Homo sapiens: one gene and its partners. The protein of the gene in region 6 purifies or fractionates together with the protein of the main gene of each other region. This does not show direct contact. Each region holds a gene or a part of one and is shown on either strand. Other genes may lie near its edges.

Region 1 (3,500 bases), on a different chromosome or scaffold from region 6:
GCCACTGCCTGTACTCCAGCCTGGGCAAGAGTGAGACCCTGCCTCAAAAAACAAACAAACAAACAAACAAAAAAAACACAAAAAACCTGTACAGGCTGGCTGGCCCCCTGTGGTCCCTGCCTCCCTTCTCCAAAATGGTGCTTGAAAATCTACCAGAAGGAGGTTCAGCACTGGGGTACACATGCCCACAAACATGGGTCATTTAGCACCCTCTGGGCTGGTACATTGGGTAGGGAGACCCCCTTGGGCCAGTGATGCCAGTTACTACCATGGCTGTGGCTACCAGCCAGCATCTGCTGCATGCTTCTGGTGTGCTGGGCGTGGTGTGTGTCCTTGCCCACTGGCTTGCTTTTTTTTTTTTTTTTTTTTTTTGAGACAGAATTTCACTCTGTCCCCCCGGGGCTGGAGTGCAATGGTGTGATCTCCGCTCACGGCAACCGCTGCCTCCTGTGTTCAAGTGATTCTCCTGCCTTAGCCTCCCGAGTAGCTGGGATTACAGGCATGTGCTGCCATGCCCAGCTAATTTTTGTATTTTTAGTAGAGACGGAGTTTCACTGTGTCGGCCAGGCTGGTCTCGAACTCCCGACCTCAGGTGATCTGCCTGCCTAGGCCTCCCAAAGTGCTGGGATTACAGGTGTAAGACATAGCGCCTGGCCTACTGGCTCTTTTTTCTTTTGCTTTTGAGATGGAGTCTTGCTCTGTTGCCCAGGCTAGAGAGCAGTGGCACAATCTTGGCTCACTGCAAGCTCCGCCTCCCGGGTTCACGCCATTCTCCTGCCTCAGCCTCCCCAGTAGCTGGGACTACAGGTGCCCGCCACCACGCCAGGCTAATTTTTTGTATTTTTAGTAGAGACGGGGTTTCTCCGTGTTAGCCAGGATGGTCTCGATCTCCTGACCTCGTGATCCGCCCACCTCAGCCTCCCAAAGTGCTGGGATTACAGGCGTGAGCCACCGCGCCTGGCCGCCTACTGGCTCTAACAGCCCTCTGTGGGTCCCTTTCATTAATCTCACTTTACAGATGGTGAAACTGAGGCTCCCATTCCAGGCAACAGTGAAGGCATTCAGCATGGTTTTCTACCCTTTCTGGCAGCAGGAGCACTTTGAAGCTAGGCTGGGACTGTTCTACCTAGGATGAGACCTGCACCCTCCAGGGGACCAGCTCTCAGACCTGTGAGAGGAGGCGGTGACGTGGTAATCCCTTGAGATGGCTGACTTCATGTAAATCTGATGCCGTCCTCCTCTAAGTCTCAAAACTGTCCTCTGCTGAGCTTGGGGGCTGCCCCACACCTGGACCAGCTGCTTGGAGTGGACGTGGCCAGGACAGGACAGTCACACCAAGAAGGCCCTTGGAAGAGTGAAGCAAACCTGAGGCCGGGGAGGGAGAAGTCACCAGGCGCCAGAGCCACAGTGCCACCGTGCTGGGGGCGGGGGGTGAGGTAGAGAAGGCAGCAGAGAGGGCGGCGGCCTCTGCCCAAGTGCGAAGCCAGTGAAACAAACGACAATAGCTTCCTATGTGCCAGGCATGGCTGGAAGCCTCATGCCCACAGCAACCTTATGATGGGATTACTGTTATTTTACCTGGGTTACCAATGAGAGCTGAGGCTGAGTAACCTGCCCGAGGGCTCCAGGCTGGTCTCTGACCCCTGCAGCTGCCTCCAGGCTGGAGTAGGGGCCCACAGGACCCCACATGCTCAGGGTGGGCGCACCATCCCAACCACAGCAGCTGAGAAATGTCAGAACACTCCCCTCCCCGCTGCCCATGCTGGGAGTGGGGCCTGGGGTTTATTCTAGAATTTCAGGTTTTCAGCTCAGGGCTGAGGCCTCCTTCCCGCCTAGTCTGGGATGGCCTCCTGGAGATCTGGAGTCCAGCGTCCCCAGTTCCTGACCCAAAAGGGATGACGAAACACAAGCCGGCTGCTGTCTGTGAGTGGCCCTTGGTGTCTGGATGTTTAAGCATATGGGGGTCCTCTGGCTGAAGGCTTCTCTCCACTTACTGCACGGAGGCCCCAACCACCCTCAGGCAGGCATATGAATAGCATTTTAGATGTGAAGAAACTAAGATGCAGAGAGAGTGAGGCCTCAGGCCCTTCTGACCCCAGCTACCCAAGAGGAGGGCAGGGGTGGCGGCATGTAAACCCTGCCACAGGTGGGGCCTCTGCAGACACCACCTAGCCCCCTAACAATGCCCGGAGCCCGCTATGGGTCCCTCTCACCCCAAGCATTCCATGGCCAGGCTCCATCTGGATAGGAGGTAGGGGTCTATGATGGCTTTGGGGGAAGGGCAGGCAGGGCTCAGAGATAGCAGGCGAGGGCAGTTCCCAGAAAAGGCCATCGAGGAAAAAAGGTATCCCTGAGAGCTGGCTCAGAGGTTCTGCCCTCCAGAGCGCAAAAGTGAGGTCAAGGTACCGAGGGGTGTGGCAGTGCTGGGGCCAGGGACACAGCTGCACCCCAAGCCCCTTCCACATGCCAGGCAGGTCCCACATGATCCACAGAACCCCACAATCCTGCTAACGGGGTTTGACATTGTGGAGTTCTCAGAGCATGCGTGACTCGCCTGGAGCTATGGAACCAGCCCTCGGCAGAGCTGGGATTTGAACCAGGGTCTCACTCCAAGGAGCATGGCGCCCCCAAGCCACTGAGGCAGGAAGGGGTGGTGAGCCAAAAGTGACCCTGGGAAGCCCCAGACTCTGCCCATTCTCCCAGGATGTCCCATCTGTCTGGCAGGGTGTTCCTGGTTCCGACCTTCCCGGGGCAGCCCTAGTTGCGCAGGCTGTCAGGCCATTTCTGGAGCATGGCACAGCAGACAGGCATGGGCTGGGCTGGCAAGTTCCAGCCCCCGCGTGGTGTAGGGAAGCTAGCGCCTCTCCAACACACACTGTCTCCTCAGTCCAGCAGGACCTTGTGTGTGCATGGGCGGTTAAGACACCCATGGGCCAGGGACAGGATGGGGTGGTCGGTGCTCGGGGCTGACCCCTCCTCCCTTCGGCCGGCCAGTGCTGGCTGCAGGGGATGTGGAGACGACCTGATCTCAGCCTGGTGGGACGTGAGTGTCGGGGAGCCCCTGGTGAGGCTGCGGGACCGAGGATGCCGTGGGGACAAGGCTTTCAGGAATGGGGCTGTGAAGCAGGGGAGGTGGCAGCCAGCTGGGGCTGGTGATCTGAGGGTTATTATTTTTTGATGACGGGAGAGACTTGAACCTGTTTCAAGGCGCTGGGAAGGAGCCAGTAATGAGAGAGAGAGAGAGAGAGAGAGAGAGAGAGAGAGAGAGAGAGAGAGACAGAGAGAGACAGAAAGCAGGAGAGAGGCAAAAAATCACTAACTGGGAAGGGGAGAGGGAAGAGGCCCAAGGCCACCATCTGCTGGGTAAGCAAGGCCCGCGGCACCAGGAACCTGCAGGAGTCCTGTCGGGGCCAGCCTTCCTCTGAGGTGGAGGGTGGAGTGAGGTGGGCAGGGCGTCTGGGCGTGGAGAAGGTCTCCAGCCATCCCCATGGGCAGTGGGA
Region 2 (4,299 bases), on a different chromosome or scaffold from region 6:
ACTTCCATTCAAAATAGGTGAATTTTGAGCATAATACATAGATAGAAAGAATGCTTACTGTATCTTAAATCTGCGATGCAGACTAGGGATAGAAATTCACTTTACTAATAATTCCTCCCCCCACCCTCCCCCCAAAAATTAAATTAACTCAAAATCAAAATTGATAGCTCATTTTTACTGAAAAAAAAAACAAAAAAACAAAATGATATTCCTACGAGGATTAGCCATTACCATAATTTAGCCAGATAACATTAAGCTGCTTCATTTAAAAAATGTAACATTACCAAAAGATTAAGAAAATGCAGCATTCCTCAGTGACTTAAGGTTTGTGGGTTTTTAAGAGATGCACAGATGTAAAAGCAGATGCAAAGACGAGTTTTGTAAAACCTGCCCCATCTTAAAAATGGAGTATTATAATCTTTGCGATAATTTTTTCAAATATCAAGGAAGACATGTAAATTCACTGAAGACTTCTATCAAGTATTTGTAAACCTAAAAATTAATTTCAAATTAGTAAATCTTGGAGTTTACTTCCAGCTCCATTCACTTTGGCCAAGAATTGAATGAAAGTAACCCAAATCACTCCTTGAAAATTAACACACGTTCAGTGTGAAAATGAATACACTAATACACTGTTAAATCTCCATTAGATGTATTAAACCTCAGTACCCTTGCTTATTTCAACAGCCTTGAGCGGTTATCAACATCTTATATTAAACCACAAGAGATTTATACACAAAAGTTAGGAAATACACTACATACCAAAAAAAGCGCCATTATAATCATGTCCTGCTTTCACCTCACAAAAGACACTCATTCTAAGCTCGCTGAAACTTCCTAGTCATTAGAGAAGTTCTGATGAAGTAACATTAGTAATCATAACTATCTCAAAACAGTTACAAAAGCCTCATAAAATCAACACACTACATAAATTTCAAAGGCTTGGTGGGTCCGGTGCGACTGCTTTAACTGCCCCACACACATATTCACACAACGAACCTGTATCAGTTTAGGAGAAAGTGTTACAGAAAATATAGCTCCTTTAAAGTAACTTCCAATCACAATACTGAAGTGATAAATCCACTTCTGAAAAGCAATTTTTAAAGATTCCTAAAATACTCATTTTGACAACCCACAAAATTAAGGTTTTTAAGCTATTAAACAAAATATGTCCCAATATAAACACAACTTTCATAGGCCAAGTTCCATCCCACAGTAAATATGTGGACAAAAATCAAAACTCTTCAGTGTACTCCAATAATAATTTTTAATTAAACGAGAGGCATACCATAAGAATTAAAAAAAGCCTACTAAACTTCTGGTTTTAGGGAATTACAGGCTTTACACTTCTGCAAAGATGTGTTTTAGTAAATGCAAGACGAAGCACTGACCAACTATCATCACACATCAGAATCCTTCCAACAAAAAACCCAGGACTGAATTTAAGGAAAACAAAATAAACGACAGAGGGGGAAAAAATAATGTCTTGCCACGGTACCGCAGCGGCTGGATAGCCTGCTTGTGAAATGCTAATGCCACTTCGGAGCAGTTAGTCACCAGCTATTGTGTAGGGCAGGAGAAAGCCGAGCCGGCCGCGCGTGCAGAGCGAGCAAGCGAACGAGCGAGCGCGCTCTCCCTCTTCGCGCCGCTCCCGCCGCCGCCGACTCTCGCGCGCCCCCGCGCCCGCACGGACGCGCGCGCCGGCCCCTCCTCCTCCGGCCTTGCACTGCACAACACTCATGACGTATCTTTATTTCTAGCACATTAACAAAATATCACAAATAAATTGTCCGCAGCCCCTGCGGCCCCGAAGTACGAGTACCCCCGGCCACTGGCCCCCGCAGACCCCGCGCCGGCCTCCCAACCCTCCCCATGGCCTTTGGAGCTTTCACGTTCTAGGGCCAAGTTTTTGTCTCTGTAAAAAATTGCGGGAAATTCAATTTTTATTCGACTCAGGGAAAAGTTTCTTTGCTCTGCGACGTGAATGTCTCACCAGATTCTGGTAGGTCCTGGGATGCTCCTTCCCGGTCCAGTCGGTGCGCCGGGGCAGCAGCTGCGGGGAGAGGACACCCCGTGAGCCCGGCCCCCGGCCCCTACCCGCCCGCTCCCCTCCCCCGCCCGCCCCGCGCCCCGGCGGGGACCCCGAGCCCCGCGCCCCGCGCCCTGCCGGCGGCGGCAGCGGCGGCGCAGCGGCCCAGAGGCGGCCGCGCGGCGGCGGGACGCGCCGGGCCGCCGCCGCCCTTACCTCCTTCTCGGCCACCTCGCGGATCAGCACCTGCAACAACAAAGCGGGGAGAGCTGAGCCCCGCGCCCCGGGCCGCGGCCCCGCCGCCGCCGCCTCCCTCCCCCACGCCCGCGAGCGGCGAGCGCCGGCCCGGCCCGCGCCGCGCGCCGCCGTACCTGAGCCGCCTGCTGACAGGGTCCATCTTCCAGGAACCGGGCGATGAGGAAGTAGAGCTCTGCGCGGGAGAGAGGGACGGGGAGACACACAGGCTGAGCGGTCGGGCGGCGGGGGGCGGGGGACCGCGGGCGGAATCGCCCGGTGCCAGCGGCCCCGGCAGCCCCCCGACTTACCCGATCGCAGCTCCGAGAGGCCTTTCCTCTCACAAGACATGTTTATGGGTCACTTCAGGGCCGCCGACGGGACACCCCGCCGCCGAGGGGAAGCGGGGACGGTGCCGCCGCCTGCCCTATAGCTGTCAGTGTGTGTTCACGAGCCGAGCTTCGGCTCCACCATTCAAGCAACGGCGGCGGAGGCGGAGGAGGAGGAGGAGGAAACAACAACTCTCAGGCAGCGACTACGGCCGTGGCCGCCTCCGCCGCGGATCCCTCCGCCGCAGAAAGGAGTCCGCCGCCTTCGCGGCCCAGGGCTCGGCCCCGGCTCTGGCCCGCGCCCCCGCCCCCCGGCGCTAAAAAAGGAGTGCCTCCGACCCCTCGTCCCCAGCGCTCCGCACGCGGCACAGTGAGACCCCCACCCGCTCCTCCCCGCAGGGCGTGCGATTTATTTATTTATTTCCAGTCGGAGAAGATGTCGGAGCCCAAGCCGCCGGTTGGCTGGAAGGCGCTTTCTCTGTGGAGGCCGATAGTGGCAGGGAGGGGGCCGGGGACGGTTCCGCGGAGGGATCTGACGCACACGGAGCCGCAGCACAGGCTCTATTCAGCGGCGCTGGCTGGAGCTGAGATGGAAGTTAGTTTCTATGTAGCAGAAATATGAAACAAATGAAGCAAAACTGCCCAGAGAGGGGAAATGCCCCAAGGATGGGTCTCACTCACGCGCGTACACAGACACACACGCAGAGAGCACTCTCACGCTGGGCAAGCTCGGGATCGCGCTACCCTTCCCGAGTTGAATGATAGTGTTTGGTTTCTGTCTCTTGCCATGTGCATGTGTATAAATGCTGCGGATTGGCATCTGTGTAAGTCTTGTCCTGCGTTATTTCTGCAGCCTATGCAAGTGTTGTGTAATTTATTGGAGTGCTGTATATTGCAATAGAGGTTTGGGCTGCTTTTTGTTAAGCACTTGCGTTTTGCAAACCCGTTATTTGCTGAAGCCACCTCTGCATATTTCTTTTATTACTGCCATTGCCTTTGGCGTACGTTTTTTAAATGTTTTTTATTGTTAAACGGGCAAAGCGAACTCTTGATTTGTACTTCAGATACTCTTTTTCCTTATTACAAAAAGGCTAGTGATGGCTAATTAGGTATTTGGAATTAAAGAACCTTAAAGCTTTTTTAAGTGTTTACGAGAAGGGAGAATGTAAACCTGAGGGAAAGGAAAGGACGCTAATATTCATGTCTAACTGATCTGGAGGTAATTTAGTGACAGATCGATAACCTGCCTAAGGATATTGAAAGAGTATACTACAGTTTAGCCAAGGTGAATAGTGATTAAATAATTTAAATAATCTGTGTATCTTGCAGTTGACTTCGTCATGCTAATTAATGGCTTCTAATTTGAGATGTAAACCATTCCTGTTTACAGTTAATCACGGGAAGACTTCTTGAAAACTGACGAAAAGGAGAAAAAAAAATCTTTCGTAAATTAGTATGTAATTACCGATTTTATATGCTAAATCATACATCTGTGTTTTGCTGATGAGGATAAGGGCCTTGTTTTTAAAAAAACGAATATGGGTGAAATTAATGGAAACAATAGAAAAAGCCATTTGTTAGAAAACAAGGACACCAAATGATATTTATCTCCAGATGATTTAAGCACTTTCCAAAAAGACTTGAGAGTTCAATATTTTTTAAGGATTGCATTTTAAAGGGAATTTGGATAGTCGTTCTTTTGTTAAC
Region 3 (4,116 bases), on a different chromosome or scaffold from region 6:
ATTTATAGCTTCCCCATATGGACTTTGGCTTTCTAATCAACCCTAAATGAAAATAGACATCTCTTTCCTCATTGTCTGCACCACCCTCCCCCGCATATTATAGTTCACACTAAATATGTTGATAATCCATATATCTGACATTAGTTGCCTGAATAAATTGGGCACTCTAATTTTCTAGATCCATGTTAGGAGCATCAGCTCAATTTTTTTTTTAACAATTAAAGCATTTTTTTAAAAGTTACAGTGAGTTATGCAGATACTGTAATCAAGTTAATAGTTTGGCTAATTTTCAAGCCAATCCACTCAGTCATTCAAAGAGTACTGAGTGATTATTAAGAACTGTTCTAGGTATCCAGGCACTGATTATAGATCAGTAGACAAGCAAACATCCCTACTCTTAAGGAAATTAAGGTCCAGCAGCTGATATTCTCTAAATTCTTGTTCAGTGGCCATCCTGCCGTCACTTGAACACGCTCCTGGGAAATTGCCAAACCCATTTCCAGCTCCCTACAACTTTTAGTACGCTTCCTCGAAAATGTTTTGGTAAATATCATTTTATCCATTTCATTACATTTTCAGTGGTGGCACAGAGTCCCTTCAAGATTAGTTTCCTTGGATGCTACCCAGCTAGTATTCCCCTTAATCCAATTCTGATTTCAAAGAATCATTAAAATGTGGCAAACAGGGAATGATTAAGTGTTAAGTGTTAGATCTAAATTTCTTGAATAACACAATAGCTACTTAAGGGGGGTACTTTAGTGGACGCTTTATTAGATTAGTAGGAGTTTGGGAACTTTGTGTGTATATGGGGGTGGGGAGATGAGAGGAAAAGGAGGTGAGTAGTAGAGGTTGTTAAAAGAGGAAAAAGGAAGAAATAAAAGCCCATATTCTCAAAACCAACAATTTAAGGAACTCTAGTATTTTAGTAGCTTTCTCCATGTACAACCTGGAAATGTACATTAACAGGAAACTTTCTACCCACCCCTGCCTCCGCCTTTCCCATCCTTGGGTCTGCTGGGATCTGTCGGTGGGTAGAAGACATTGTCATTGTTCATAAGACTGCCTGAATGTGAATGACATATATTTAGAAATCAAAATAAAGTTTTGGGAAGATCTTCAATTTAATGGAAACTAGTCTAGTCATTTGGGAACCACAAGAGCTTTTTAGGGAAAATGTGCCTCTGCCAGCTGGAGGAAGTGTGGGTGTACCGGGGTCCCGGTGACACCTTGTGATGTCAGTCACCCCCAGCCTGAGGTTGATTGGCTATGAAGAGCTGCAGCAGAGTTTAAATTCCTGCACCATCAGAGAAGTGTCCAGAATATCAACACAAGAGTGGCTTCATTGGGCATAGATTTCCTCTTTGAGAACATCAACCTGATTTTTGAGACTTTTTGAAAAAATTCTTTGTGAACTACGGAGGGTAAGTCATTTTCATCATTTAATTTTTTAAAATGACTTTTGCTGGTTGTTTGGAAAATATTAAATATGTATACATGTTTGAGGCATTATACCATGTAGAGAGAGATGGGAGAGCTGCGCTTTGGGTAAAAACAGTTCCTATTTTTGTGCCTGTTGTTTATGCCACAGTAAATAATGATATGAAAATGACATGTTAAGACAATACAGCCAGGTGTTTTTCTTGGTAATGCTTTAATTAGATCTCTGCATGACACTTCTAAAAGGGATAGTTTATAGAACAGGAGGCAGATGGAAGGTCATTTTGAAATTTAGTTTTAATTAGCAAAACGTATAAAACTTTTACAGTGTGTTTCATGAATAAGGGAATGTTTGCAACCTACAAGATTGTGAAAAAAAAGCTAAACTTATTGAATGGCAGGACTTTAAAAAGAATTTTTTTTAAATTAAAATGTTATTCATCTAGAGAGCATCTAGTAACATTTATTATGAACTGCATAAGTAACTAAAAGATGATTAAACTACTGAAATAACTGAGGGTGTGATAATTATGTTTTTTGTATTCATGTTAGCATGATGCCTTGAATACAGTTAGAATTCAATAAATGTTGAATATAATTATATTTTAAAATATTGCATTTTAAAACATATATTTTAAAATGTCCATATGTATTTTTATTTACTGTATTTAGTGCACTTCTTCATCTGTGTGACGTTTAGAAGAGTCCATGTGTTTTAGCAACTTGTCTTCCTTAAGAGCAGTAACTTGTGGTTAACCATACTTTCTGTTTAACTGAGGCTTGACTATCTTATTTTAACTTTGTTGTTTAAAAATGCGAACAAACTATTTTCTAAAGGGTATTAGTCCACTTACCTACCTGAAAATGGTGATGTAAAACAATGTGCCTCAGATGCTTAGAGGCCTTCCAAATCTATATTTAATTTTGGGGGCACCTCAGAGGTATATTCCTGTGATTAAAAGCATATAATATTGGATTCATCGTAATTGACCTGAAGACACATACAATAGGAAGAATTGGATTTTTTTTTGGTTTGTTTGTTTCTCTGGATTCCTGGTAGAGTTCATATCCTGGCCAAGTTTGATTCTATTTTCAAAGAGTAATAAGAAAACAAATTCTAGCAGGTTCTAGTTAGTTGGATTCTGGTTAATTTTATTATTATAAAACCAACTTATTTTATTATTATTGTTTATTATTATTAAAGTTTCCTGCTAATGTACATTTACAGGTTGTACATGGAGAAAGCTACCAAAATATTAGAGTTTCTTAAATTGTTGGTTTTGAGAATATGGGCTAGAAAAGTGCCTAACACATTGCATGTTCATAAATATTTACTGACTGCTAATGAATGAATGTATTGTTCAGTTGTGTTCTTGAAGATAACAATACTAAGACAAATAAAGCAAATTAATATGATGAATTGTTTTCCAAAAGAAAAAAGAGTCTATGACTTTTCAAACCTTTATTTTCTTCTTTTGGCCTATTTCCTTCATTTTGGTTTACATAAAAGAAGATATATATTTTACAAATGTATCTTAACCTTGAGAAAATGCTAGAACAAATTTCCTTACTTAAGAGCCGAAAGAAGTTTTGGCTACACACCTGAAATCTTGACTTTAGTTTCCCTCTCCACATTCTAAACATTTGGCTCTTTTCAACTCTATGAAAACAATTCACAGGGGCAGAAATTCTCTAATACACCGCCTTCCAAATGGATGGAACTCAAGTTGTTTATTTCCTTTTGTTACGTCATCTCACTGTAGAATGACAGCATGTAGAATGTAGAAATAACATTAACCAATCACTGAAGAAGAACTCAAAGTTCTGGACTTTTAATTGCAGGCTTGTAGCTGTGGTTCACATTTATTATTCAGAATATGGCTACTGCCTATCTGCTTCTACTCTTTTTTGAATAGTAGCCAAAATGTTTATAAAAGTTTGGAGCTCTTGTTTGGAAATGCACTTCACAAAATTATAATTATTTTTATCAGAAATACCAAATGCAAACCTAACAAGGGGTTTAAGATCTGATTTTCTTTAATGCTTACAGTTGGACTATATTTTTTGGGTGGCAACATCAGCTCTCTCAGAACTCTAGAGTGTCTTTTATTTTAGTTTACTAGACTTGCATCTGGGAAATTATTGCTTTAGGTCAGGATGCTAACGAGTATTTCTAGAATCCTGAGCAAGTTAGGGCATCTTTCTTGTGTTTTAGAATCTTCCATCCCTAAGAAACTTGAGCACTTGGGGCATGCACTTCTTTGTGAGAAAACACAACGTTCATTGGTTTAGAATAAATGCACAATGGCATCCCCAGTTTTCTAATTATTTAGATTAGAGAAGCTAAAGAAAATACAAGAGAATTCAATAGTCATTGACCTTCTGTCAAGGCTCTAACATTTGCTAGCTTTCAGAGAATCATGAAATTATAACCCTATTCAAATTTCACTTTGAAAATTAAAATGATGAGGTAACTTTCATTTGATCTGTGAAACTGAAAGCATTGAAAGGGTTATTTTGAGAATATCATATTTGAGAAAATTTTGCTTTCCTGAAGAAATAAACCTAACACATTTTTTAAAAAGTTTTGATTGTGGTATCTAAAGAGAAGTAACATCTATTAAATTAAGCTTGATTTTGGTATAGTTAAGCATTTTCATATGTTTTTCTCTGTTGATA
Region 4 (2,515 bases), on a different chromosome or scaffold from region 6:
GACTAGTCTTGAAATCCTGGGCTGAAGTGATCCTCCTGTCTCGACCTCCAAAAGTGCTGGCATTACAGACCTGAGGTACCATGCCCAGCCTGGTTTGGTTGAGTTTAATTTAATTTAATTTTTATATATATATATATATTTATTAGAGACAGGGTCTCACTGTGTCACCCAAACTGGAGTGCAGTGGTGTGAACACAGCTCACTGTCGCTTTGATCTCTGGGGCTCAAGCAGTCCTCCAACCTCAGCCTCCCAAGTAGCTGGGACCACAGATGTGTGCCACTAGGCTTGGCTAATTTTTGTACTTTTTGTAGAGATGGGGTCTTGCTATGTTGCCCAGGCTGGTCTTGAACACCTGGGCTCAAGCAGTCCTCCCACCTCAGCCTCCCAAATTGCTGGGATGACAGACATGAGCCACTGCACCTGACTGAAAGACATATTTTTGCCTGTAGTGTAGTTTAGCCTTAAGACTGTACCAGCAGATAGAGGTGGAAAAGTAATGTGAAACGAATGTCAAATTACGTTTATAAATAAAGCAGCTGCTCATTAAGGTTGTTTTTTTTTTTAAACCTCCTTTTTTATTCTGGGTTACATCATTCCCTGGCTGTCTTTACCCCAGCATCAGTGAGTCCTGCAGTCACTATAGCCCCCTGTGAAGACAGATATTTTGGTCACCATCAAGTGGATCTTTATTTTTATCTAACATTTACAATTCTGCCAGTTCTGACTCTTACATTCTCTTTGCCTTGAATCCTAGGATCCACCTCTGATGTTCACTGAAGAGTACCAGAAAAGTCTGCTAGAGCAGTACCATCTGGGTCTGGATCAAAAACGCAGAAAATACGTGGTTGGAGAGCTCATTTGGAATTTTGCCGATTTCATGACTGAACAGTGTAAGTGGCAGTTTGGCTCATGGGATAACGTACCCGTCCTCATTTTTTCAGGTTGCCTTTCCAATTCTGGCCATTTCAATTGTAAGAATATTGGAAACAAAGTTGGGGAAGCTGGTTTAATCCATGTAGGTTGCGTTGAGAATTTTCTAGGAAAAGTAAGTTGTGTTTAGGAAGTAGGAAAGCAATCAGGCCCCCGCCTCCCAAATACGGTCAAAAAGCAAACAGGAGAGTCAGCTATAGTGAATCGGAAATGGCTGGCTTGCCTTTTCCTTGTCTATTTTGTAGCCAAGGAGGAACGAAAAACGGGACCTCATCATGGATTTACTTTTGGGATACACTCATTATTCCATAGAAGGGTACAAAGCCTGAGAAACTTAAGGTATTTCAGTCTGTTGTATATTACTTGCGAAAAGCAGGCTTATCAAATACAGGTGAGTTTCAACGCATCTTGAATTTGGCAGCATTTACAAGTCTTCAGGCCAGGTGTAGTGGCTCACGCCTGTAATCCCAGCACTTTGGGAGGTCAGGGTGGGAGGATCGCTTGAGGCCAGGAGTTCAAGACCAGCCTGTTCAGCATAGCAAGACCCCATCTCTACAAAAAATAAACAGATTAGCTAGGCGTGGTGGTGTGTGCCTGTAGTCTCAGCTGCTTGGGAGGCTGAGGCAGGCGGATAACCTGAGCACAGGAGTTGGAGGCTGCAGTGAACTATGATTGCACCACTGCACAAGAGCCTGGACAACAGAGTGAGACTTGTCTTTAAAACACAAGATTGGTCTTCAAAGAGAATAACATCTGCGGTGTCTTGTGAGGATGGATGAGGGGCTGCCAAGTTCGCAATGAATGTGTCCCATTTCTTCTTAGTTTATGGACTTACCATAAACTGAAGATAGCAGTTTGGTGGGTTGGAGAAGCATGTGGTAATGGTGGGAATTATAATACATTACTTACAGGGAAAGACAGGCCTTTGAAAGGTAAAGCGTAAGAGTGAGAATGGAATACGGATGAATGAATGAACAAGATGAGGTGAGAAGGAAGAGGTAAAGGGAAAAGGAGAACAGGAAGCTGTCCTCTGCGTGGCACCTGTGATAAATGGTTTCTGGGGACATCCCTGATGGCAGTTTTGTGGAGAGGTGCGAGGCTTTATGCGGTAAGAAATGAGCTGCAGGCTGGGCGCAGTGGCTCAAGCCTGTGATCCCAGCACTTTGGGAGGCCAAGGTGGACAGATCACCTGAGGTCAGGAGTTTGAGACCAGCATGGCCAACATGGAGAAACCCCATCTCTACTAAAAATACAAAATTAGCCGGGTGTGGTAGCGCATGCCTGTAATGCCAGCCACTTGGGAGACTGAGGCATGAGAATCTGTTGAACCTGGGAGATGGAGGTTGCAATGAGCTAAGATCACAGCACTGTACTCCAGCTTGAGCAATAGAGTGAGACTCTTTTTTTTTTTTGAGACGGAGTTTTGCTCGTTTCCCAGGCTGGAGTGCAGTGGCGCTATCTCAGCCTACTGCAACCTCCACCTCCCAGGTTCAAGCAATTCTCCTGCCTCAGCCTCCCGATTAACTGGGATTGCAGGCATGCGCCACCACACCCGGCTAATTTTGTATTTTTAGTAGAGACGGG
Region 5 (3,958 bases), on a different chromosome or scaffold from region 6:
AGTTTTGTGTTATTCAAGGATGAAAAGAGGTACATTTAAAAATGTACTCCACCTTTTAAAAACGGACTGTGGCCATTATGGTGTTCACATAACTCAGAACAGCCCAGGCCATAAAATTAGGACTTGGCAGAAAGAGAGTTCTCAGGCAGAAGGTTAAATCGAGGTAAACTGAAGGGAGAGTTGGGCAGTGAGTGCAATTGTGGTGTTAGGAATCTACAAGGTGCCCTTTACCCTGGGAACATCGGATTCCCGGGGAGGGGGATGGGGAGGGAACTTCGGTTGCCTCTAGTCTTTCCTGGAGAAAAAAGTTCAATGAAGAAGCTGGGGCGCTCTGTGTGTGCACATTGTTTGCATGTGTCTGCGAATGTGCATGTCTATCTGCGTGCCTGTGTGTATGTGTGTGTGTGTAAATGCGGGTGTTTACCAGCGCATGAATGCCCCCGTGTCCACGTGTATCTGCGTGCATGTGCTTACACGCGTGTTCGTGTGTATCTGCATGCATGTCTCCGTGTATGTGCGCGCTCGCCCGCCCGCAGGCTCTGTGGTGAGGGCATTCCGAGGCGGAGTACGGCTGTCAGGGGACCTCTCCCACTCCACTGCAGTCCCTTCCCACTCACAGTGAACCGGTGCGCTGCCTGAGGTGCAGCCTAGACGCTTCCTGCAAAGTGTTGGCTCGGCACGGTAGAGGCGCAGGTAAAGGCCAAGCCCCGAAACGTGGCTCCGGGACAGTCACGTTCCCGCGCCTTCCCAGGACAACTGCCCAGGGGTGACCTCGAGAGGCGGGTGGAGCTAGGCCCACGGCGAGCCAGCCCGGGATCCCCGGCCTGTCCCTTTAACCCCGCCGCCGGGCGGGAGCACGTGAGCGGGGCTCCGGGTGGCACCCGGGCGCCGCCGCCGCCGAGGCAGTTGTATTTCGAACGCTGCCTCTGGCTAGCAGCCAGGCGCCTTGGCTCGGCGGTCCGCCTGGCCTCCCTCCTCCTCATACTTTTCTTCCTGCGCAACCCCCTCCCCTTTATCCGCCCACGATTAGAGGTGGGCACTCCCCCCACCACCACCCCCTCCCCAAGCGCAAGCGCGTGCACGCACACACACCACACACACTCACACTCACACACACTCACACACACTCATCCCACTTGAATCTTGGGGCAGGAACTCAGAAAACTTCCAGCCCGGGCAGCGCGCGCTTGGTGCAAGACTCAGGAGCTAGCAGCCCGTCCCCCTCCGACTCTCCGGTGCCGCCGCTGCCTGCTCCCGCCACCCTAGGAGGCGCGGTGCCACCCACTACTCTGTCCTCTGCCTGTGCTCCGTGCCCGACCCTATCCCGGCGGAGTCTCCCCATCCTCCTTTGCTTTCCGACTGCCCAAGGCACTTTCAATCTCAATCTCTTCTCTCTCTCTCTCTCTCTCTCTCTCTCTCTCTCTCTCTCTCTCTCTCTCTCTCTCGCAGGGTGGGGGGAAGAGGAGGAGGAATTCTTTCCCCGCCTAACATTTCAAGGGACACAATTCACTCCAAGTCTCTTCCCTTTCCAAGCCGCTTCCGAAGTGCTCCCGGTGCCCGCAACTCCTGATCCCAACCCGCGAGAGGAGCCTCTGCGACCTCAAAGCCTCTCTTCCTTCTCCCTCGCTTCCCTCCTCCTCTTGCTACCTCCACCTCCACCGCCACCTCCACCTCCGGCACCCACCCACCGCCGCCGCCGCCACCGGCAGCGCCTCCTCCTCTCCTCCTCCTCCTCCCCTCTTCTCTTTTTGGCAGCCGCTGGACGTCCGGTGTTGATGGTGGCAGCGGCGGCAGCCTAAGCAACAGCAGCCCTCGCAGCCCGCCAGCTCGCGCTCGCCCCGCCGGCGTCCCCAGCCCTATCACCTCATCTCCCGAAAGGTGCTGGGCAGCTCCGGGGCGGTCGAGGCGAAGCGGCTGCAGCGGCGGTAGCGGCGGCGGGAGGCAGGATGAGCGCACGCGGTGAGGGCGCGGGGCAGCCGTCCACTTCAGCCCAGGGACAACCTGCCGCCCCAGCGCCTCAGAAGAGAGGACGCGGCCGCCCCAGGAAGCAGCAGCAAGTCAGTACGAGGGCGCGGTGGGGGCACCAGCCCACCCCGTCCCCACTGCCGGGGCCCAGACACGCGCGGGGCGGCCGGAGTGCGGGAGCCCAGTCGCCGCGGCCGTCGCACACTGCCCGCCGGCCGGCCGGGGGGAGCGGCGCAGACCCCACGAGTGCGCCGCGCGGCCCCGGGGCGCCAGCAACCCTCCGGGCGGGGAGGTGGGGAGCCGCGGCGGGCGGCCCGGGGAAGGCGGGAGGTGGGGTCGGGCGAAGCGCGTCCTCGGACTTTCGCTATTGTGCACGGCCCCGAGTGGCGCGGTGTCGCCCAGTGACTGGAAGCGACCGGGATCCGACAAACCCGGGCTCGCAGGCGCTTTCCGAGTTGCTTTTGCAACTGCCCGGGAGGAAGGAGGTGCCGGGGACCCGGGCGCTTCGGCCGATCTGGGCTGAAGGGGCTAGAGTCTTGGGGGCCGGAGGCTCTTTCTCCCGCCTCCCGGGGCTGCTCGCGGGTCGGGGGCTGGCGCGCCGCAGCCGCCCCCTTGGCGCCCTCCTCCAAGCTCTCGGTGGCCCAAGACTCGCGCCCTCCCGACAAAGAACGCATGGAGACCCGGCTGCCTGGTCCTTTTTGGGCTCTTTAAATATGCGGCGGCCGCCGGAGGGAGCCCGGGGCAGGGGCTACGGGGAGCCTGGTTCCCCGCAGGACGGGGTTAACTCGCCCAGCTAAGGGCGCGTTGAAAGGAGTGTCCAAGAGAGTGCAGGGTAGCCAGGGTCGCTTCCTTGTCAGGGGCCCGGTCCCCCTTTTGCCCCTGGATCTCGCGCCTCAGAGCTGCAGCCATTAAATGCTCTTCTCCAAGGCCAGTGGCCGGGGGTTGAGTAGGGGACGATCGAGGGGCGCCCGGGACCCTGCGGAGTGGAGGGTTTTGTCTGCGGATGCAACCAATTAAGCGTGCAGCCGGCGCTTGCAGAGCTGCGCTCAGCGCGCAGGGCTGGGGGTTTTGTTCGCTGTAATTTCCAAGCCGCGGCGGGCAGAGTTGGAGCGGGATATGTCTATTGAGAACATTTAAACTCCACTTTCTCGGGCTTTAAAACTTGCTCTCTGCTTAGTCTTAAATCGCTTCCTTCATGGCAAACACGCCGATTAGAAAATAATCCTAGAGTCCCAAAGTTGTCCGAGAGCAAGGTGGGGAAACTGAACAATGTTTGCTTGCCAGTGCATTTTAGAAAAATTGAGAGTTGTACCTTTTTGAAATCATCAAAGGAAACAAGCCGATCTAGAGGCCCCTGAGTTTTCCCGCTCTGCCCAAGCGACACTTTACACCGCATTTGAATCCTGTTTTACACCTCCCAGGAAGTCTCTGCCCTCCCCCACTTGTTTCCCACCCGCCACCCAGTTCTAACTCACTAATTGCCCCCCCTCCAAAAAAAAAAAAAAAATCCAAAAGAAATTACAATGGGGTCTGGAGGTGATTGGATACTTTACCTTTGAGTTAAGGCAGAGTTCACAAAGAAAGAAAAATTTGTCTCCGATGTGTTTGCTCTCGATGTGCCCACTGGTGCTAGTGGTCCCACAGAAGCTTGCAGGGAACCTTCCCGAATTCTCTAAATGGGATGCGAATTTTCATTGAGGACGTTCATGGGTTTTAAGTTAATTAGTCTCACTTAATCACCGAATCTGAATGAAATGTGAATAGATGATTCACTGGATAAATATTTGGGATCTGGAATATTAATCATCGCATTCTCTTAACCACTTGAGTATTTACTACTTGGCATAGGAGCCATTTAAAGTTTTGCTAAACCAAGTGATTGCTTCCATTTCTCATTCCCAGACACTCCATTCCTCCTCGCTTTTACCTCCTTTTAGTTTTCTCCACTCCACCCCCATAAGAGTTTTCTCAAAAGAAAGTTTTGAAGAAAATA
Region 6 (3,500 bases):
TTACTGTTTAACAAGTACTTTCTTATTTCTATATCAGTATCAGTTGAAACTATAGTTCCTATCAAGAAATTGTGACTAAAAACATTTGGCTTATCATGATTTTGCTAGAAATAACTTAAGTTTTCCTTTACCTAATTTTGGAATCTCTAACATATTTAGGATCTTTCAAATTATCCTCCCAAGGAAGATGGCCAGTAAGCCATTGGATCATGCAATAACCAAGTATTTCCAAATCACCACGTCTTGATGGGGCTACAAATGCAAGAGAAGAACATTAGGTAGACTGAAATAATTTTTAATGTATAATTTAAAGTATATATAAAGTAATAACATAAAACAAGTCAACTCCACAGTCTGTTTTTCATCATAAAATTTTGACTGCATTTCACCTAGGTACTGAACATTGGACAGTATAAAAGAAATAGCTTACCTCCCAATTAACTTCTAGCTAATAATCTACTTTAAAACCCAAATTGGTAAATTTCAGGGTTTCAAGCGGAGACTGTTAGTCTAGAAATAAAACTAGTTTTCCTTTGGAAAACTTGAAGATATTCTTAAAATTTTTATATGCTATTAAGAGGCCCAGAGAACTGGGTATTTGAGTTCTTCCACAGCTTTGAGCACAGAAGAAATGACTGCTGAAGAAATAAACTAACTTAACAGGTAACAAAATAAAAGTTAGCTGTTACAAAGTTGTAGATACATAAGAAACTTGAGAAAAAACACAAAAACAAACATTCCAATTAAACTAAATAAAACCAAAAAGAAATCCTCATGGCAGCTGAATGAACCACTACCACCTTCTTGGTTATCTTTGAAGGCTGCGAGGAAAAGGCAGGACAGAAGAACACAGATGGTCCTGGAATACAATTGTAGGAGTCTCACCTCTGCCTTCTTTCCTCATGCCACTGTGCCTTTTCAATTTTTATTTATCTATTCATTTACTTATGCATAATTAAGAACTATGTAGGAATCTGGGTGAAAACATTAGCAGTCTATTTCTCACTCCAGTACTACTGACATACCCACGCCATTGTGTGCATCGATGCTCGTGAATTCAATAGTGCCATCGTGACATCTTTTGGGGTCTTCTTTGTATTCTTTATGAACTCCTTCTGGGCAGTACCGATAAGCAAGGCCATAATCTACCAAGTACACCTATAAATTTCCAAGCACCAAGACAAACTAAAGTCAAAATCACTGCACATATAACCCTTTAAAGCACAGAAACAAAATACTGGCATCTGAAGGTGGGTTCACCTACAAGGTCATTCCATAACACTCCAAACAATTTAGATCCAAAATGCAAACAACAGCAAATACTTAATTCTGAAAGGCTTTTTATTTTTAATAAAAATGTTAAATGACCACATAGCTACAGTGTAATCACTTGACTTTATATACTTTTTTAAGATAAGTATATGTTATACTTGTAATTAATCTTGTCTCAATTTGAACGAAAATTATACATTTTATACTTTATCTTACAGACTCTAAAATTGAGCACAGAGCAAACCGTCAATACTTGTTGCAATACAACTGCTACTTTCCACACAGAAAAGCACACCCAGTAGAAGACTGCTAATGATGCTGACACATGATATGTTAGTTACCTTCTATTCCTCTGTTTCTTCACTTGTAAAATAATCAAATTTCAATTTACTTTATAAAAACATTTCATACATCATAATAATGATCTAAAGAACTGTTAGATCAGGCTTTTATCTATATCTAAATACTATATTCTAAAGCCAAGTCTTCATGATTAAAAGTAAATTTTAATATTATATACATACTTATTCGTGGGCATATACATGTGGGTCTGATTAGCATACAAAGCTAATAAACTTGGCTTTCTTCCATTCCATAGCCACACATTACATCTCTAATTCTGAGTAAATGTCACAAATGCATGCATCTGGGCACAAGAGGAAACTGAAGTAAAAATATGTGGCTAGATCTAGCACATACATCTAACACTGGAAAAATAATCCCATCCAAAGCATATGTCTGAAGGATAACAGAGCTGCAAAAATATTTCCATATAAACAAAGGCAGCATGTTTTAGTCACCTACAAAGTGATATAAGTTGTATTTTATTATACTGTACAAGTCCAGACTATTTCAATTAATGGAACCCTTATTGTTCAGGTTGTTAGCTGCGTTTTCTTTGTTCTTAGCCTAGAAATATCTAAAAAGAAATGGCTAGAAAGAGCAGAGATGAATTTGATGATTGCCTTTTTAAGATTTCTCCATTAGCACACTATCTTAATAGTATAGTAACTTTCTTCTTTTATACTTATATAGATTCCCTTCTATCCACCATAACTGACATTGGAGGAAGGGAAGCAAATACGAGACGACAGAAAAAGAAAAGAGAGCCAAAGGAAAAAGGAAAAACTAAGCAAAGGTAGTTAAAGGTACATTTGAGAGAAAGAATGAAGTACAGAGTACTGACAAATAATTACAATAATCAAAGTACCCAAACACATTTAAAATGTTTAAATCTTCCTTTTTATGTAAGATCAAGTAAGAAGTGAGAACATACATTAAGTATGAATGTCAACTAAACCTTACTTTCACCGAAATCACAGAAACAGTTATACAGGAAAATTGTATAGATCCCTCTACTTCAACTAAACTGACCTAAATAAAGGTATAATAACATTAGCTTTTCTCCTTTCCTTAGAAAGTAAAAATTACAAAGGGAATGTAATAAGCTAAAAAAAAAATGCACATTTGAATTCCAAACACTAAGGGTATACAAATTTAGACAGCTAAGATATTTCTGTAAACCAATTGATTTGAATAATCAACATGTTAAAGACCAAATTTTCCAAGTAATAGAACACTTACATTTGATGGATTTCTTGAACAAAGGAATAAAAAAAGTGACAAAGCAGACAGGCAAACATAATTCATTGGTGTACTATATAATTTTAAGCTTCCACCCCCAAATAGCTATTTGAAATTCATTTTGTATCACAAGCACTTCTTCTGAATATTATTTAGGGCAAAATAGCCAACTTGATAAAGTGCCAACAAATCACATCAAAAATGTAGAATGTTAACTAGATCAAAGTGTCAAGAAGAAATATTATTACCATATCTACTTCAAAAAGTAAAACTTCTACACAGGTTCAAAAGTTCAAAGCAACCATATTTATTTTCAAACAACACGCTTTAAATAGTAGAAATTAAAGTTATAAAACTACCTGGTCAGGATTCTTGTAGTTCAGAAGAAGATTTGAGGCCTTGATATCTCCATGCACATACTCATGCTCGTGAATATATTCCAGAATATCCAGCTATGAAAGTATCATACAGAATAAGTTAATGCAGTACCTAACACCAGCCAGCAGAGGACCAAGCTTCAACATAAACTAGCCTTTACTGTACTCAAAACAATTTTTTAAAAACAAGAAGAACATAGCTCACATACAATTCTTAAGCTTAGCTGCAAGACAGTTTTCCGAGAAAACCTTTTGGCATTTGCTTCA
Region 7 (4,280 bases), on a different chromosome or scaffold from region 6:
AAGTTAAATAACAAGGCTATGGATACTTGGTCAGGTTCAGAAAAGTTTGCACCCCAAGTTCAAGGTAAAGAAAGGCTTCACTGTTCTGAAGTCCCTAGTATGGCAAAGTTACATGGCCATCAGAGAGCTAATTAAAAAAACTATGTTTAAATTATTTCCATGTTTCAGAGTTCTCCACCTCTAGACTCAGAATGCAGTTTAAAGATGTGACCTGAGACATTTTTGTTTTCCCTTGAGAGGAAATGCACAGTTGGAAGTTCACAAAAACACCTCTTCAAAAAACAGTAATACTGTTTTCATCTTTATAAAAAGCTTTCATCACAACTCTTTGGTGGCACTTCATGCCTTCAAGTACTCATTTTGGTGATCGTTGGCTCCCTTTTAGTCTGTCTCACAAGCCAGGTTATAAATGGTTTGAAATCAGGGGCCTTGTTTTTACTTTGAACCCATCGCAGAGCCTGGCACAGCGTGGCAGAGTGTGCGCCCAATAAATACTTGAGTGGAATTACACTGAAAAACAGGAAGAAGTAAAGCCATCTTCCATCTGCCAAAGACTGTGATGTTGCTGTATTGGTAATTTTCATTCTTAGAAAGCTTTAATGTGAATGAAATTATTCCTTACTGTGCATTTGAAAATTCCACTGAAAACAGTTTTAAAAATTAAGCATGCCCTCTTAGAGGCAGGGGGCACAGTTCTGGACAGATGAGAAAAGTGACAGTGACATCTCTGCATTGTTCAGAGAAGAAAGGTCAACAAAGAGTAGAAATAGAACACTCAACCCACCCTGCATTCTTTCCCTAGAACATTCTCTGTGTGTCCCTTATCATTTAAGCTTTTCATATGTAGTTTTCTTGAAACTGACCATATGCTCTTTTGGGGTGAGGGGAGGAGACGGAAGAAGGAGATGGAGAAGGTCTGAGATGATTTTTTTCGACAGCAGCGTCCACTTAGGCCCTTGGGGAGGCCGGGTCACGGGGCCTCCTTGCACCAGTGGTCTACAACGTCTTGCCTGCGGTTTACAACCGCTCTTTTAAAATAATTTCCCTTTGGGACGGCCCCCGGCTTCTTCCTGCCACCCCCATCCCCACCCCGCCCCCATCCTCATCCTTAGAGGCCCCAGGCAAACGCTTCGGATTCCCGGTTAGGTCTCAGAGTAAACAGCACGCTTGGAGGATTACAATCGACCCGAGGCCAATTCGACCCTTTCCCTTTGCCGCCCTCAATTGACCCTTGAAGCAGCCCCTGCTCTCCCTTCAAATGGAAAACCCACAGACACACACACAAACAAAAACCCCAAGTCTTCCTTTCGGTTGCTACCCGCAATGACGTTTCCCCCCTCGGGTCCCGCCCCTCCAGGGGGCTTGGAATTTTGGGATTGGCCGAGAGGCTGTGGCGACAAGGCCCGGATTGGACAGCATGGCGCTGACTGACAGCGGGGGCGGCCGCCGCGCCCTCCCTCTCTCCCCGGTGTGCAAATGTGTGTGTGCGGTGTTATGCCGGACAAGAGGGAGGTGACCGTGGCGGCGGCGGCGGCGGCTCTGTTTATTGTCCCTCTCGGTGTGTGTGTGTGAGGAAATCGGGGCTGCAGCGAGGCTAAGGCTGCCTTTGAAGCAGCGGCGGCGACCGGGACGACTACTCTGGCGACTCGAGTGGCTGGCCTTCGCGGAGTGTGAGAAGGACAAGGCACCTCTGCGTCCTCGCCACGTCCGAGCGCCTCGGGCTCCCCGGCCGCCCTCGCGGCTCGCACGCCCGGGCTTCAGCCCGGCCTGCAGCGGCGCCCGCGGGCGGGCGAGAAGGCAACGCCGCCGCTCGGCCGCCGCCGGTCGCTCCCTGCTTTCTCCTCAGCCGCCGCGCTAGGCCCGGGCGACGCGGACGCCGCGCCTCGAGTTTGAGGGCAGCCGGCGGCGCGGCCTCCTCAGCGGGCTCGGCTGGACGTCCGCTCCGGATCTTCGCGATGGGGCGCGGGGGTCGGCGCGGCTAGGAGTGCGGCGAGTGGAGCGGTGGGTGCGGAGCGGCGGGGCCCAGCGGCCCGCAGGGAGGCGGGAGCGGCGGCTGCGGCCTCAGGGCCTGTGAGCTGGAGGCACTCGCCATGGCCAAGTCGGGTGGCTGCGGCGCGGGAGCCGGCGTGGGCGGCGGCAACGGGGCACTGACCTGGGTGGTAAGTGGCTGGTCCCCGGGACGGGCGGCTGCATTGTTCCGGGCCCGCGGCGGGGGCGGAATTCCGAACGGGCGGGGGAGGGGAAAGGGAGGGAAATCCCGTCCCCCGAACGGGCGCTCCATAGGGGCCTGTGCTTGCAGAATCCTCCAGCCCGCTCCCCGCGCCTTTTCTTTCTTTCTTTCTCTGTACGTCTCTGGAAGTCCTGACTGCCAGAGCGTAATGTGTACTTGAAACTTTGGGGGGACAAAACCGCGAACGTAACATACAGCCCCCGCTTCCTCTCTTTTCTTTTTAACCAGACTCTTCCGGGGCAGCCGAACCTGAAATGGTGGGGATGGCGATAATGCAAGTGTGTCTGTGTGGGGCAGCATTTTCTCCAAATGTAGTTCAAGAAAACCCTGGGAAAAGGGGTGTGTGTGTGTGTGTATTCTAAATGCAGCTCTTTCTGGGGCTTTAATCTCAAAGAAGAATGCATTGGGATTTCTACAGCAACTTGCACTTCAATTTGGAAAGCCTCATTCAATGCGCTCAATTGAGAGCGCATTGGGGATGACTTTCACAGCAGTTAATACTGTAGGTCGTCCCTCTGTCAGGGTGAGATTATTAAAAGAAGTGCTTGTCTACGTCAGCATCGCAGGTGTAACGGGGTGAGGGCTGAATGGATGTCCTGGAGAGGTGACTGAAGTGCTTAGTCCTGAAGTTAAAGGATTTCGACGCTCAGTTCTTGCTGGGAAGTAGAAGTAACTGCAGCGGAAGGAGGAAGGGAGACTGGATTCCCACGACAGATCGATAATTCGCCGGCATTTCACTTGCTCAGCGTAGAGTTCAGACCAGGGTCATTTCCTATACAGAAAACCTAGGTATTTCGGAGAAAAGTAAAAAGTGTTACATTTTTCTGGACTTTTGACGGTCTGTTCCCCCGTCCCTGTTTTAAATACCTCAAGGGAGCTTTCATATAGGCATTTTTGTTACTTAGTTCGTTTTCTCTTTGTTTGGGTGAGGTTTGGGTGAGTTGAATAGCAATTTGTGCTATATTGACAACTGCTTCTTATAAAAAGGGTGCTACTGACAGCAGCAAAACATTTTAATCACTTATGTTTGCGTGCCAGGGTACATTGCAAAATAACTTGCCATGCTCTTATTGTTGAAATTCTTTGAATGTTGTATATTACTCCGATTATGTAGAATGAAAGTATGAAGGGACTAGGGCCAGGAGAGAAAATGTCAGATACTAAGTTAGTGGTCCATGTGGACTTGCAGTAGAGGGTATGTGAGAGGAAGAAGGAGGAGATGGACACATACATGCAAAATAATGACTTTCAGAATTAATGGCTTTTACCCCTGTCACTAAAATCAGACATCGGAAAATTGACTTAGACAGCCAAATGGTATTGTAAGTTCTCATTCACTATTTGGAAGTGTTGAGGCCTGATCGGTGTTTCCTCTGAAGACCTCTGGTTCTATAATGGTAAACATTTTGCTCCGTAGTGGATTGTTGGCTTTAACATTTGATAGCAGTACTTTAATTAACTGTTATATAATTTTGTAGATAATTAAATGACAATTTATTTCTTTCAAGCTCCATAGGAAACTCATTGCTAATTTAGCAAAACTTGGAGCATCTCATTCAAGATAGAAAAATCCATTTGAAACTGAAATTGACTTATTGATTAAAGGAATTTTCATTATAAAGCAGATTATGGAAAATATGGGAAATGCAGTAAAATAAAGAGAAGTGAAGATCACTTAGTGTTTTATTTATAGAGTATATCTTATGGAATTAGAAGTTTATTAAAAAGATAATCACTCCTGTAAGTCTTCTTTAAGAGTTGATGCTTACTCTAAGGTTATATGAGCATCTTTATGTCCATAATATACATCATTGATCATATAGACTGGTTTGATTTTATGGGAGGCAATATAGTGAGGTAGTTATGGGCTTTGACGTCAGGCTGATGTAGGTTCAGATACTGTCTCTCCAACACATTTAGTTGGACTTTTCCCAAGGAACCTAACCTTTCTAAGCCTGTTTTTTTATCTGTCAAATAAGGTTGCATTGAGAATGAAATGAGATAACGTGTGTAGCACAGTGCTGGGCTTAATGATGTTTGTTATTATTGG

Evidence for each region.
Region 1: the proteins of VRK1 (region 6) and RAI1 purify together in Homo sapiens (affinity purification with mass spectrometry; one large-scale study listed by BioGRID and IntAct). This does not show direct contact.
Region 2: the proteins of VRK1 (region 6) and PHIP purify together in Homo sapiens (affinity purification with mass spectrometry; one large-scale study listed by BioGRID and IntAct). This does not show direct contact.
Region 3: the proteins of VRK1 (region 6) and DMP1 purify together in Homo sapiens (affinity purification with mass spectrometry, with the first as the bait; one large-scale study listed by BioGRID). This does not show direct contact.
Region 4: the proteins of VRK1 (region 6) and GUSB purify together in Homo sapiens (affinity purification with mass spectrometry; one large-scale study listed by BioGRID and IntAct). This does not show direct contact.
Region 5: the proteins of VRK1 (region 6) and HMGA2 purify together in Homo sapiens (affinity purification with mass spectrometry, with the first as the bait; one large-scale study listed by BioGRID). This does not show direct contact.
Region 7: the proteins of VRK1 (region 6) and TOP2B purify together in Homo sapiens (affinity purification with mass spectrometry; one large-scale study listed by BioGRID and IntAct). This does not show direct contact.

What each region holds. Positions count from the first base shown.
Region 1 is NC_000017.11:17,799,958-17,803,457, reverse strand, and holds part of RAI1 (retinoic acid-induced protein 1), read right to left. Parts: intron 1-3,500. UniProt on the Homo sapiens protein: Transcriptional regulator of the circadian clock components: CLOCK, BMAL1, BMAL2, PER1/3, CRY1/2, NR1D1/2 and RORA/C. Positively regulates the transcriptional activity of CLOCK a core component of the circadian clock.
Region 2 is NC_000006.12:79,075,455-79,079,753, forward strand, and holds the start of PHIP (PH-interacting protein), read right to left. Parts: upstream 2,801-4,299; 5' UTR 2,615-2,800; coding exon 2,575-2,614; intron 2,460-2,574; coding exon 2,401-2,459; intron 2,276-2,400; coding exon 2,246-2,275; intron 2,054-2,245; coding exon 1,994-2,053; intron 1,813-1,993; exon of another isoform or gene 1-1,812.
Region 3 is NC_000004.12:87,648,964-87,653,079, forward strand, and holds the start of DMP1 (dentin matrix acidic phosphoprotein 1 isoform 1 precursor), read left to right. Parts: upstream 1-1,316; 5' UTR 1,317-1,421; intron 1,422-4,116. UniProt on the Homo sapiens protein: May have a dual function during osteoblast differentiation. In the nucleus of undifferentiated osteoblasts, unphosphorylated form acts as a transcriptional component for activation of osteoblast-specific genes like osteocalcin.
Region 4 is NC_000007.14:65,962,699-65,965,213, reverse strand, and holds part of GUSB (beta-glucuronidase isoform 1 precursor), read left to right. Parts: intron 1-755; coding exon 756-891; intron 892-2,515. UniProt on the Homo sapiens protein: Plays an important role in the degradation of dermatan and keratan sulfates.
Region 5 is NC_000012.12:65,823,325-65,827,282, forward strand, and holds the start of HMGA2 (high mobility group protein HMGI-C), read left to right. Parts: upstream 1-1,158; 5' UTR 1,159-1,946; coding exon 1,947-2,057; intron 2,058-3,518; exon of another isoform or gene 3,519-3,650; intron 3,651-3,958.
Region 6 is NC_000014.9:96,852,882-96,856,381, reverse strand, and holds part of VRK1 (serine/threonine-protein kinase VRK1), read right to left. Parts: coding exon 3,443-3,500; intron 3,309-3,442; coding exon 3,216-3,308; intron 1,159-3,215; coding exon 1,026-1,158; intron 253-1,025; coding exon 132-252; intron 1-131. UniProt on the Homo sapiens protein: Serine/threonine kinase involved in the regulation of key cellular processes including the cell cycle, nuclear condensation, transcription regulation, and DNA damage response.
Region 7 is NC_000003.12:25,662,108-25,666,387, reverse strand, and holds the start of TOP2B (DNA topoisomerase 2-beta), read left to right. Parts: upstream 1-1,480; 5' UTR 1,481-2,090; coding exon 2,091-2,159; intron 2,160-4,280. UniProt on the Homo sapiens protein: Key decatenating enzyme that alters DNA topology by binding to two double-stranded DNA molecules, generating a double-stranded break in one of the strands, passing the intact strand through the broken strand, and religating the broken strand.